Homo sapiens: one gene and its partner. Each later gene encodes a partner of the first gene's protein in a complex. Each region holds a gene or a part of one and is shown on either strand. Other genes may lie near its edges. A codon is read from its position in the direction of its gene.

Region 1 (5,276 bases):
GGAAGAGGAGGAGCAGGAGGCCCTCATCCTTCTGCTGCCCTGGGGTTGGGGCCTCACCCCTCTGGAGGGCCGGAGGCAGGAGGTGGAAACCCCAGGGGCTGGCTTTTTTAAAACTGGTTTTATTTTAATTTTTATTATATTTTCAGTTTTTCCATAAAGGAGCCAATTCCAACTCTGTACCTGGTCTCTGCCCTTGCTGTGTTCTCCTTGTTTCTGGACTTTGTTGCCTGAGGGCTGCTGAGGGGGTGGATGGTGGGGAAGGTATGGGGCCTGCCAGGCAGCTGGGGCTGGGGGTGGGGTCCCCACTCTCCCTCAGAGCAAAGCTGAAGCCCCAGCCCAGAGCCTTCCGTCCAGAGGTTCTCGGATAAGCAGCCCTCACCATGGTTTCCCCCGTCAGGCTGCTGACCAGAGCCAGCCTGACCAGGCGGGCACTGCTCAGAGCTCCTAGTTCCCAGCTCTGTGCAGAGCCACTCATCCCCATGGCTCTCCCCAGATAACGAGCAGTGGAGGCGGAACGGGAGAACACACACCAAGTTTTATTGGGAGAAGGGAGTATTTACAGGAGCAGGTAAAAGAGAGGGAAGTCACACAGGGTGGAGAGGGGGCGGGGAGACTGTGGGTACAAGGCAGACAGGGAACACGGTGACCCCTGCACCCACCCCAACCCCAGGAAGGGCAGGGGAGCAGCGAGGGCCCAGGAAGACCGGGGCCGGGGAAGGACAGCAACAGGGTCTGAGTCCCTGGGCAGGGGGGCTCAGGGGCTTGTAAACATTGACCACTCTCAGAAGGGGATGGGGGTGGGAGAGGGCTCCCCCTATACTTCCTCACAGGGTTAAGGCCTCTCCAGGCTCATGGGCCCCCTAAGTCCAAAGTCTCTTTAGCTGGGGAGAAGAGACAGGAAGAGTGTCCCCCTTCCCCTGCATTGGCTGCGGCAGGGGTGGGGGGGTTACATTCAGTCACAACAGGAGTCTCCCCCACACCTGGCAAGAGGGAAGGGGAGCTGGGGGCCAGCAGCAGCAAACACTCCCCCCGGCCCGTCACCCCTTATTGCTTTAGAGAGAATATTGTCTTTTCAGGGACGCTAACACTGTGGGAACCAGGGAGAGGCAGGTGGGGGCCCCCCACCCCGAGGCCAGCTTGATCCCCCAACACTGACCTAGTTGCCACTTTGGTGCAAAAAAAAAAAAAAAAAAAAAAAAATCCAACAACAGAAAACCAAACACCATCTTTCTGGGACTAGATGGGGAAAGAAACGGGCCACTCCCCATGTCCCCAGGGCAGGAGGGAGAAATACATTCATGGAGGGAGGCAGTGGCGAAGCCTTGCCCTAATACTGCACTCTGAGCAATGAGGTCAATGGGAGGAGCTGGATGAGAAACCCAAAAGACAAAACTGTTACAAAACCCAAAATGGGCGGAGACGAACCCAAGTAGGGGACCGGGAATAAGAAGTGGGTGAGCAATAGAAGGGGCAGCCTCCTCTGACCCAGGAGCCGCACACTTCTCTTCACCCCAACCTTACCCAACGGTAAAAAGCGCATCATATCAGACCCGGAAGGCCACCTGCTCCTCTCCCATTTGGTCAGCGGAAGGGTCAGGTGCAGAGCTGGGTGGTCCACATCTTACGAGCTGGCTACAGGTTGGGGCCCCGGGCGGCAGCCCCTCTACTGCAACCCTAAGCCCAAAGCCACCCACTCCTTGCCTTTGAGGCCCCTCCTCCTGCCCCCTTCACTGGAGAAACAGCTCAGCCTTCTCTCTGCAGCCTCTGGAGCAATCATCCACCCCCGCCGCTCACAGGGGTGAGGCAGCTCAGGCAGGGGTGAGGCGGGGGCTTGTGGCCCAAAGAATACATTCACGTGGCAAGGCAGAGAGCTGGGGCTTTCAGGTTCAAACCCAGGGTGTCCCCCAAAATGGCAGCAGTGGGAGACGCCCCTCACCAGAACCAGAGTCCTGCTGCCCCACCCTGCCAGCCAGAGAGGTTGGCACGGCTTGGCCCCTCCCGTCTACTCGGCCAGCACAAGATGGCAGCCAGAGAGCTGGGGCCACTCGTCCAATTTGTGCAACTGTCCCCCAAAGCAGCGAAGCCAAGGGGCTACTTTGGCCCCACCCCGGACACCTCAGCCAGCCTCAGTGACAGGAGCTGCTCACAACAGGTCTGGCGGGTGGGGCTCAGACAGGCCTCCTGTGCAAACTGCTGGCCCCCAGCTTCCAGTTACCCCATGGCCCGCCTTCTGGGGGGTAAGTATGGCCTTGGGGGCCAGGCAGGACAGGTCCACGGGGCCTGTGTCCCCACTGCCCCAAAATAACAGTGTGTTTTTTCTTTCAGCCTCCTAACCATTTTTTTTTTCATTTTTCATCTTTTTTTCTTAAAAAAAAAAAAAAAACCAAAAAACAAAAACCTCTGTGGACCTTCCATTGTCACACCCACTATCCTCACAGCAGGAAGGGGTGTTTAGAGTCTAGTTTTTAACAATATTTTTGCCTCTCCTAATGTTTTCTTCAGTCGTTTAAAATTAAAAAAAAAAATAAAAAGAAAAACCCCCTCCCCCAGTCTGTAAAGTGCCTCGTGGTGGGTGAGTTAAGGTGCATCGTGTGTTTGTAACAAGTGCTGGGGACCCCGCCCCTGCCTCTTCCTGTGCTCTCTGCGGGGAGCCTGCAGGCTGGGACCCTCGGTCCACGCCGCTGTGGCTGCCCTGGCCTACAGCCCAGGGGCTGGGGGTCCGGGCTGGTCAGTAGTCATCCACGCTCTCGATCTCACCAGAAGATCCGTGCAGGGAGTACCCTGAAGCCGGGGAGAAGCTGCGTCTGAGCTCTCTCCTGGGCTCCTCCTGCCCTGTGCCAAGGAAGTCCCGCTCCTGCCCCAGCCCAGCTCACCCAGGATGCTGGGGTCTGAGTGCAGCATCAGTGCCCGCCTCTTGGCCTTGCTGCCCTCCCCGGGGCCGAGTTTGGTGCTGTGGTTGGCCTGGAAGGCCGTCTGCAGCGAGGCGCTGCTCAGCCATGCCTCCTAAGGCAGCGGAGAGGAGGGTGAAGGTCAGGAGGCACCAGGCAAGCCCACCCCAGCTGCTGGTGCCGGCTGCCTCACCTGCTGCTGCTGCCGCTGCTGGCTGGCTTTCTGCTTGGCCCTCCGCTCCAGGAATTGTTTGGCAAATTCTTTGGCTTCCAGCGTGTCCCCCAGGCAGGAACGGATATAATCGTGGACATCATAGGGGGATTCCACCTCCTTGAGGATCGCTACAGCCATGGGCACTGCAGGATGAGCGAAGGCTGTCAGGGCCCCCTGGCCGGGTCTGGAGACCCAGGTCCCGCCCACCTCCTGGGAGCCGCTCGCCCACCGTCCAGGCTGCCCGTGGCGCTCAGCGTGTGCAGCATCTGCTCGCACCACTGGGTGAAGCCGTCCTGGGGCCTGGGAATGCCCTGCAGCAGCTTCAGCAGCTTCTCTTCTTCCTCCGTCTTTTTGCGAATGGGCCGACCCGATAGGTGGCTGTATGAGTCACTGAAGGGGGAGGGTGAGTCAGGGTTGGAAATCAGCTGGCAGGGGTTGGGGGGGTCTGCCACCTTCCCCCTCAGGGCCATCCCGGAGCCTCCAGGTGCCACGCCCACCTGAGAGATGGGCTGCTCCGGCTGTTCTTCAGGCCGAGGCCACGGACCAGGCTCCCGCCGCTCTTGGGGGTGTCCTCCCAGAGCCCCAGGCCGCTGCTGCCGCCCCCACTCTTGTCTGGCCCGCCCCACAGTGGCCCAGCCTCAGACACCCACTGGTTCAGGGGGGCAGTGCCCAGGCCCCCAAGCTGCTACAGATGGCAGAAGATCAGAGTGGCTCAAACAAAGGCACCCCAGAAAAGCGGATGGGGAGGCTTGTTTAGGTGGCAAAGGGAGACAGGTGAGGTGAGGGCCACAAGAGCTGTTGCCATCACAGGAGAGGCTGGGACTGGGGCTGGGGCTGCACAAGTCTGGGTTCAGTATCCCCCTCCCTGTGCCACCCTGGAAACTGTAGGGGGAGCCCGGGAGGTTCCCGGCCTGCTCACCACTCGGTGGTTGGGGGCCTGGGCCCGAGCTGGCTCCCGAGGTGGGGGCTGTTTGTGCAGCTGCCGCTCGCCCTCCAGCTGCAACTCCAGGAGCGTCTTCATGGACAGCCCCTGCTTGGCCAGGCCAGCCCAGAGTGGGGGCGGGGAGCTGGGTGCGGGGGGCACAGGGACCGCCTGCTGCTGCTGTAGCAACTTCAGCAATAGCTCCTGCTGCCGCACCTAAGAGGGGGACATGGTGAGGGGACCTGGCGAGGGTTGTCCACCCAGCCAGCTGAGGCTTGGGAGCACCCACGTGCTTGCGCCGAAACAGCTCTTCCTCCTCCTGCCGCCGCTTCTGCTCCTCCTGCTGCTGCTGGCGGCGCTTCTCCTCTCGACGCTTGCGTTCCTCTTCCTCCCGCTTCGCCCTGAGCTCCACTTCTCTGCGCTCCTGGAACTGAGACCAGTGGCCCATCAGAGGGGAGAGCTGCAGGGGACAGCCTGGGGCCTGCCTCGGTCCACCCTTCATTCCCAGGGCCTCAGCCCCAGGATGCCCACTCACTTTATGTTGCAGCTGGAGTTGTTCTAGAATTGGACCCTGAGTCGAAGAGTTAATTGGTATGTCCCAAAGACTGGCCTCACCACCTGCAGGGGGCAGGGGGGCAGAGGCGGCTGCAGGTGGGCACTTGGGCCCACTGATCTAGTCCAGCCGCAGCAGTGGGCTCCCCAGCCAGAATGGCAGCTAGGGGCGTGTGGGGGTGGGGAGCAGACCCCAGACCCCATTTCACCCGGAGACTGCCTTGGGGGTGGGGACCAGTCAGGCCACACACCTGACTGTGATGAGGCTGAGGTATGTACGTCCCAGAGGCGGCCCGAATCTGGCACCGACAAGGACCGGCTCATCGTCGGGAGCAGGTTCTGGTCCCCGCCTCTGAGGAGCAAATTGTGGATTCTTAGGACCCCAAATCCATCTCTGGTCTGCCCCCATCCCCCCCCCACCCTGTATCCTGAGGGCTCGCACGCACCACGCACCTGGGGGGTTTGAGCGCCTGGAGCTGCTGCAGGAATGCCGTGAGCTGCTGCTGCTGCTGCTGTGGCGGCGGCGGTGGTGGCGGTGTCAGGTCCCCCAGAGCTGCCTTTTCTCGGAGCGCGCACTGTGGGAGCTGGCGGCTGCAAATGGGACAGTGGAGATGGTGGGCCACAGAGCCAGCGCCGGGCCTTCTCCCAGCCCACCCCAGGCCCCCCATACCTGCTGACCAGCTGGAGAAACTGCTGGTGC
Region 2 (7,032 bases), on another chromosome or scaffold:
GGAGAAAATATTGCAAATCATATCTAATACTTGTATCTAGAATACTCTTACAACTCAGTTATAATCTGCTTAATATGAAATCAACATCATTACTATGCTGAGCTGATAAAATTTCAGCCTAAAGCAAAGATCTTGTTTAGTTTGCCAGTGCTATCTTAGAATCAGCAAACTTAGGGGTTTTGTAATAATAAACTACCTTGTGCACTGGTTCATATTTGGTTCAATAAATGCTTGTTGAATGAATTCAAGGCTCTAGTAGGCTTCTAAAAGGAATGAAGGCACAGATCCTGTCCTTGGGGAAATAAGATGTGCCCAGGAATTTCTAATACAGGGAAGACAGTAAGTGATACTATGGGAAAGGCATTTAGAGTGCTCTTGGAGTTTGGAGGAAAGAAGGAATTGATTCCAGTTTGGGGAATACTGCCTTGGAAGAGATGGGTTTAAGATTGATTTTAAAGAATTTGGCCAGGCCTGGTAGCTCATGCCTGTAATCCCAGCACTTCGGGAGGCCAAGGTGGGAGGATCGCTTGAAGCCAGGAGTTCAAAACCAGCCTGGGCAACATAGTGAGATCTTATCTCAAAAAAAGATTTTTTTGGAGTAATTATGCATACTTCTTGCATTTTTATTTCCCTCTTGTGAAAAAAAAAAGCATATAAGAATTTACCCAAATTGTACGAGGAGGGTTTTTCTTTTGTTTCAGTGTATATGTTAAGGAGTGGTTTATCATCAGGACTATCTTGGGTTAAGGCTTCATCCATGCTCACTGGATGTGTGACAGTATTTAAAGTCTGTCATTTTGACTCTGTAGGTCTGGACCTGAAAAATAGAAATAAAGTCTGTTGTGTAATTCAGGTCACTAGGAAATGGCTCACAATATTAAATGCATCACAGATAAATAATTACATTATGAATCCTTTTATCAAATTGAAAGCAGTGTTTCCCAGTGATTCTTAGCCTAATCATTAACAACATTTAAAAGTTCTTGAAGTCAGAGTGACTAGGAAGGCATCATCTTGAAATGGAAAGAGCACTAGACTTGGTAATCAGAGCTCACCTATTCTGATGCTTGACCCTCTTGGTTAGAGCAACTCAGTCCTGAAACCTTTCTCAACTATAAAACAAGTTGCTGACATGATTTCTGAGGTCCTTTCGGCACCTCATATTCTGAGTCTGTGAATGCTTATTTTTTTTTTTGGTTTCAATTAGAACTGTCAAATCTTTTAAAGTTTAATAATATTTCTCAGGCCAGGCACAGTAGCTAATGCCTGTAGTCCCAGCACTCAGGGAGGCCAAGGAGGGAGGATCACTTGAATCCAGGACTTCAAGACCAGCCTGGCAACAGTGTTAGACTTCATCTCTACAAAAAAAGTAAAAAAATAGCTGGGCATGGTGGTGCCCACTTGTGGTCCCAGCTACTCAGGAGGCTGAGGCAGGAGGATTGCTTGAGCCTGGGAAGTCGAGGCTGCAGTGAGCCATGATCACACTGCTGCACTCCAGCCTGGGTAACAGAGCAAGACCCCATCTCAAATGATGAATGAATGAATGAATGATAGTCTCGAGCTGTTTAACTTCATCTCTCTTATGGTTTGCATATAAGATTGTGCAGTGGGGCTGGGCGCGGTGGCTCACGCCTGTAATCACAACACTTTGGAAGGCCAAGGCAGGTGGATCACCTGAGGTCAGGAGTTCGAGACCAGCCTGGCTAACATGGTGAATGGTGAAACCCCATCTACTAAAAATACAAAAATTAGCCAGGCGTGGTGGTGTGTGCCTGTAGTCCCAGCTACTCGGGAGGCTGAGGCAGGAGAATCACTTGAACCCAGAAGGCAGAGGTTGCAGTGAGCTGAGGCAGGCTGCACCATTGCACTCCAGCCTGGACAAAAAGAGCGAAACTCCATCTCAAAAAAACAAACAAAAAAAAGATTGTGCAGTGTAGTTGTAAGATTGGGGAGACCAAACTGTTAAAGCGATTATTGACTGGGGAACTGGAGATGGTTGACATACTTTGTCCTCACCAAGCCCCTTTCAGTTCCTTATTCACAATGAGCCACTAGTGGGTGTACTTGGTTCTAGTGGGTATATGTGGTTTTATTCAACTATGTTAGGGTGGATAAAGGTTTACATTATTGCCGATTGTATTCATATGACCATTTACTATTCCGAGTCACTACATGCAGCTAAGCTTAGCAGTTGCTGAGTATAAAGCACTGCCTTGAAGCCCTATAGATGGCGTTAGTTCTGACTTCTTTTTACCATGTAAGATGCATCACGTGTGCTTGTGCTAGAGAGGAACTAAAGGGACAGCCATTTCACGCAGTGTAAGGCTGATTTCTCCTTAGGTGCTCCCCATATCTAGAAGTATGACCTGAATCTTTGTCTACTCGATACCCATTGTCAGCTCCACAGTTGTGGTATCTTGCTGTATGTTGATTTAGAGCCTGCTCAGCAGTTTAGCAGATACCAGCTATTTCTCATTGGAATGTTCCGTGTTTTCTCTTTCCTCCTAAAGTGTGCCTCTTCACTGGCCAGTACTTACTACGTATCCTCTGTGAATAAGGAAATAATCTTTCCTATCAAGACACTAGTGAACCTGTAGTCCCAGCTACTTGGGAGGCTGAGATGGGAGGATCCCTTGACACCAGGAGTTAGAGGCTGTGATGAGCTATGATCATACTGCTGCGTAGACCCTGTCTCTTTTTTTTTTCTTTTTTTTTAAGGGGAGGGGGGGTGACACTAATGAGAAAAACAGGACTACTGTGATGAATACAAATAAGCATATACTTGATGGAAAAATATAAATCTAGTTTTCTCACGGGATTGTGAAGGAGCGGCAAGGAGAAACATAATTTTTCTAGCTAAGAAGAGGGCCTTAAACCCTAGCTATGAGAAGCTAAGTCCTGTATGATTTTGGATTGGCCTGGACTTAGCAACAGCACCATGATGTAGAGTGGTATGTGTGGTACATGTGGTTGATTCTATCACTTACGCTTAGTAACTAAACAGGTCTAAGAGGTATTTACATGTGGTTGATTCTATCACTTATGCTTACTAACTAAACAGGTCTAAGAGGTATTTCATTCAGCAAATGCTATATTTGCCAGTTAAACAATCTTTCATCGGTAAGTGATTTGGTTCTAAAAAATGCATTCAGGCTGAGGCTGTGTGACACTTACATACCTCAAGGCTAAAGAGTTTCCATTGTGCAAAAACCTGGTCCTCTTACTGCATGTGATGACTACCCTGCAGCTTGAGTGGGAGAGTGCGTATTAACATGGTTTCACCAACTAAAGCTCCTGGCTGAGGCTTGCATTTCTCACCAAAGATTTTATTCTTGAATTGCGAATGTTACATTTTTTATTTTGTCAAACTAGATGGTATGTTTTTCCTCTAATATGTCTTCCCTCACAACACCACACATGAAAATGAGTCCTCTGAAAAGGACAGCCTGTAGTATAGTGTCTTCCATGCTTATGTTCTTAACTAAATCTCAACCTTGGGATGCATTCAAAGAAAAGTAAAAGACACATGTTTTTTACTCTGGGGTCTTCTCTCTGCAGGTGGAGCAGTTCTGGAGGTTTTATAGCCACATGGTACGTCCTGGGGACCTGACAGGCCACAGTGACTTCCATCTCTTCAAAGAAGGAATTAAACCCATGTGGGAGGTAAGGACTAATGGCTTCTGACTGCTTTTTTGAGCAAGTTTGGGTTTTTTTGTTTTGTCTCTTAGCCCTGCCAAGGTTAAAAGTATTTTATTTTATTTTATTTTATTTTATTTTATTTGAGACGGAGTGTCGCTCTGTCACCCAGGCTGAGCGCAGTGGCGCGATCTCGGCTCACTGCAAGCTCCGCCTCCCAGGTTCACGCCATTCTCTTGCCTCAGCCTCCCTAGTAGCTGGGACTACAGGCGCCCACCACCGCGCCCGGCTAATTTTTTGTGTTTTTTAGTAGAGACGGAGTTTCACCGTGTTAGCCAGGATGGTCTCGATCTCCTGACCTCGTGATCCGCCCGCCTTGGACTCCCAAAATGCTGGGATTACAGGCGTGAGCCACCGTGCCCAGCTGGTTAAAAGTGTTTTAAAGTCTCTCAAAACTGCATCACTCTCCAGTATATCCTTGGAACCCGAGCCTCTAGAGAAATGCACTGATGCCATTTTTTGTCTGTGTGGGTTGGTGCTGGGTGTTTTTTAAAGACTGTTTTATGACTAAAATGGTATTAGAACATTAAAGGATTTTTGTTTTCAGTTACCTTTATCCTTATAGAACTTGTTTGTGCGTGTGTGTAATATTTTTACATAGTACACATATGATTAAAGTGGGTAAGAAAATAAGTTTAAAGGCAGGAACTGGAGACCTAGAACTTTGCAGAGCCAGTATTCGGCTGCGCCCTGGTGTAGTGCATCTTCTATTCTGGTGCCATGGCATTTTTCGAGAAGACAAATGTGGTCACATCCACGCCACCCATCTTATACAGCTCCTCATTGCTCACATGATCTTGCACCTCATTTACCTTTCAAGCCTCATCTCCCATCATCTCTAAATCTTCCCTTCCCTGCAGGTGGACCCTCCTGTCAGTTTATGCACAGACATGTTCTTCCCAGTGCCCGCAGTGCCCTTCAGCTGCTTTTCCTGACTCACTCCCGTTGACCTTAAGACCCACTTCTTGGCAGGGCATGGTGGCCCATGCCTGTAATCCCAGCACTTTGGGAGGTCGAGGTGGACAGATCACCTGAGGTCAGGAGTTTGAGGCCAGCCTGGCCAACATGGTGAAACCCCGTCTCTACTAAAAATACAAAAATTAGCCAGGTGTGGTGGCACGCGCCTGTAATCCCAGCTACTCGGGAGGCTGAGACAGGAGACTCACTTGAACCCAGGAGGTGGAGGTTGCACTGAGCCAAGATTGTGCCACTGCACTCCAGCCTGGGTGACAGAGCGAGACTCCATCTCAAAAAAAGAAAAGAAAAAAAAAGACCCACTTCTTGACTGTTTCCAACTATCTTGTTCTTCCTTAACATAGTGTGCATATCTGTTAACAGCAGCACTTATAATTATAGTATCATTGCTGTAATTAATATCCTTGGCTGTCTCTTCTACTGGACTGGATCTGAGTAGAGATTGGGGCTTCAGCCAGGCGCAGTGGCTCACTCCTGTAATCCCAGCACTTTGGGAATCCGAGGCAGACAGATCACGAGGTCAAGGGTTCGAGACCAGCCTGGCCAATATGGTGAAACCCTGTCTCTACTAAAAATACAATAATTAGCCGGGTGTGGTGGCATGTGCCTGTAGTCCCAGCTACCCAGGAGGCAGAGACAGGAGAATCGCTTGAACCCAAGAGGCAGAAGTGGCAGTGAGCCGATATCGCACCACTGCACTCCAGACTGGGTGACAGCGGGAGACTCCATCGCAAAAAAGAAAAAAAAAAAAACTAGATTGGGGCTTCATGTCTGTGTACTTGGTATGTAGTGACAGTCAGTACTTTTTTTTGTCGTCGTTGTTGTTTTGTTTTGTTTTGTTTTTTGAGACGGAGTCTTGCTGTGTTTCCCAGGCGGGAGTGCAGTGGCACGATCTCGGCTCCCTGCAAGCTCTGCCTCCCGAGTTCACGCCATTCTCCCGCCTCAGCCTCCCGAGTAGCTGGGACTACAGGCGCCCACCACCATGCCCGGCTAATTTTGTTTTTGTATTTTTAGTAGAGACGCGGTTTCACCGTGTCAGCCAGGATGGTCTCGATCTCCTCACCTCGTGATTCGCCCACCTCAGCCTTCCAAAGTGTTGGGATTACGGGCGTGAGCCACTGCGCCCAGCAGACATTCAGTACTTTTAGCAAGTAAACGGATGATCTGTGCTTGAAATATGACATCATTTCGTTTTGATTCCTAAAGTATTTCCAGTAAAGGGGATTATTTTTAAAAGGTCTGTTTAGCCATTTTAATAAATGGCTTATGCCAAGGATCCCAGCCTTGTTTTTCTTTTTTTCCCCATTTCTTCTCTCCCTAGTCCTACCATCAGTTTTTCTATAGAGTTGAATAATTGGAAAGTGATATGACTTCTTAGTGTTTAAGAGATTCTTGGCTTTTTACTGCCTTCATACAAAAAAAGGCTGTGAAACCATATTTTAACTTCAGTGCTTTCTGTCTTTTTACAGGATGATGCAAATAAAAATGGTGGCAAGTGGATTATTCGGCTGCGGAAGGGCTTGGCCTCCCGTTGCTGGGAGAATCTCATTTTGGCCATGCTGGGGGAACAGTTCATGGTTGGGGAGGAGATCTGTGGGGCTGTGGTGTCTGTCCGCTTTCAGGTAAGCCACCCATGAGCCAGGCTGGTTTCTTGTGTTGCCTTTGCTCTCCTCGCTGCCCCTGATTTGCTTTGATGATTCCTTCTGTTCCTCTGGTAGGAAGACATTATTTCAATATGGAATAAGACTGCCAGTGACCAAGCAACCACAGCCCGAATCCGGGACACACTTCGGCGAGTGCTTAACCTACCTCCCAACACCATTATGGAATACAAAACTCACACCGACAGCATCAAGTACGTGTTGGGGGGTTATGGGAGGACGTGTCCCTAAGCTTAGTATAAGTAGATCTGTAGTTGGGCCCAGAGGAATATGGCCGGACAGGAGACTTACTTGTGGAGAAGGGACAGACCAGGCCTTCCCTCTAGGGCTTCTGGCTACTTGCTGCAGTTCTTTGTCAGCGAGGCTCCCTGCCACCTATACTACCAGGTGCTTTGTAGCAGAGAGAGCCCATCTGCAGAAACCCAGTTGTACTACCTGGGCTTGCTTAATTTCTACAGGCTGTCTTGTCTTTCATATGCTAACCACTATCTTAAAATGAAAGACAAGTGCTTTTCTTTTTCTTGCTGTTTTTTAAGATAATTTCACCCTGCCCACCCTCACCCCACTTCTGCATGTCTTTTTAACTTGTTAGCTTCAGTCTATTTTCTTTGTCCTGGGATACTGACTACTTATCAGGAATGACTCCATTTCCTTGTGTATAGAGCTGACTCTTAGAAGAAGGGGGATAGTGTGTGTGTGA

The links. The genes of interacting proteins can lie anywhere in the genome.
Region 2: the proteins of GIGYF1 (region 1) and EIF4E2 are in contact, whole or in part, in a crystal structure (PDB 5NVK), measured with the Homo sapiens proteins. Residues at the interface, in NP_001362694.1 of Homo sapiens: Leu36, Ala37, Asp38, Tyr39, Arg40, Tyr41, Gly42, Arg43, Met46, Leu47, Leu49, Tyr50, Glu53, Asn54, Lys55, Val56, Pro57, Glu59, Leu60, Glu64, Phe65, Ala67, Val68, Leu69, Gln70, Asp71, Glu72, Pro73, Leu74, Gln75; in NP_004837.1 of Homo sapiens: His54, Pro55, Leu56, Gln57, Tyr64, Lys83, Gln84, Ile85, Gly86, Val91 (codon at 3,559), Glu92 (codon at 3,562), Trp95 (codon at 3,571), Arg96 (codon at 3,574), Phe97 (codon at 3,577), Tyr98 (codon at 3,580), Ser99 (codon at 3,583), His100 (codon at 3,586), Met101 (codon at 3,589), Val102 (codon at 3,592), Arg103 (codon at 3,595), Leu107 (codon at 3,607), Phe113 (codon at 3,625), Ile137 (codon at 6,174), Arg138 (codon at 6,177), Leu139 (codon at 6,180), Arg140 (codon at 6,183), Gly142 (codon at 6,189), Leu143 (codon at 6,192), Ser145 (codon at 6,198), Arg146 (codon at 6,201).

Annotation. Positions count from the first base shown.
Region 1 is NC_000007.14:100,678,991-100,684,266, forward strand, and holds the end of GIGYF1 (GRB10-interacting GYF protein 1), read right to left. Parts: coding exon 5,247-5,276; intron 5,168-5,246; coding exon 5,030-5,167; intron 4,929-5,029; coding exon 4,828-4,928; intron 4,643-4,827; coding exon 4,560-4,642; intron 4,455-4,559; coding exon 4,314-4,454; intron 4,241-4,313; coding exon 4,022-4,240; intron 3,788-4,021; coding exon 3,600-3,787; intron 3,493-3,599; coding exon 3,332-3,492; intron 3,246-3,331; coding exon 3,082-3,245; intron 3,004-3,081; coding exon 2,874-3,003; coding exon of another isoform or gene 2,782-2,873; coding exon 2,729-2,781; coding exon of another isoform or gene 2,698-2,728; 3' UTR 517-2,697; downstream 1-516. UniProt on the Homo sapiens protein: May act cooperatively with GRB10 to regulate tyrosine kinase receptor signaling. May increase IGF1 receptor phosphorylation under IGF1 stimulation as well as phosphorylation of IRS1 and SHC1.
Region 2 is NC_000002.12:232,560,689-232,567,720, forward strand, and holds part of EIF4E2 (eukaryotic translation initiation factor 4E type 2), read left to right. Parts: intron 1-3,558; coding exon 3,559-3,663; intron 3,664-6,140; coding exon 6,141-6,293; intron 6,294-6,389; coding exon 6,390-6,526; intron 6,527-7,032. UniProt on the Homo sapiens protein: Recognizes and binds the 7-methylguanosine-containing mRNA cap during an early step in the initiation. Acts as a repressor of translation initiation.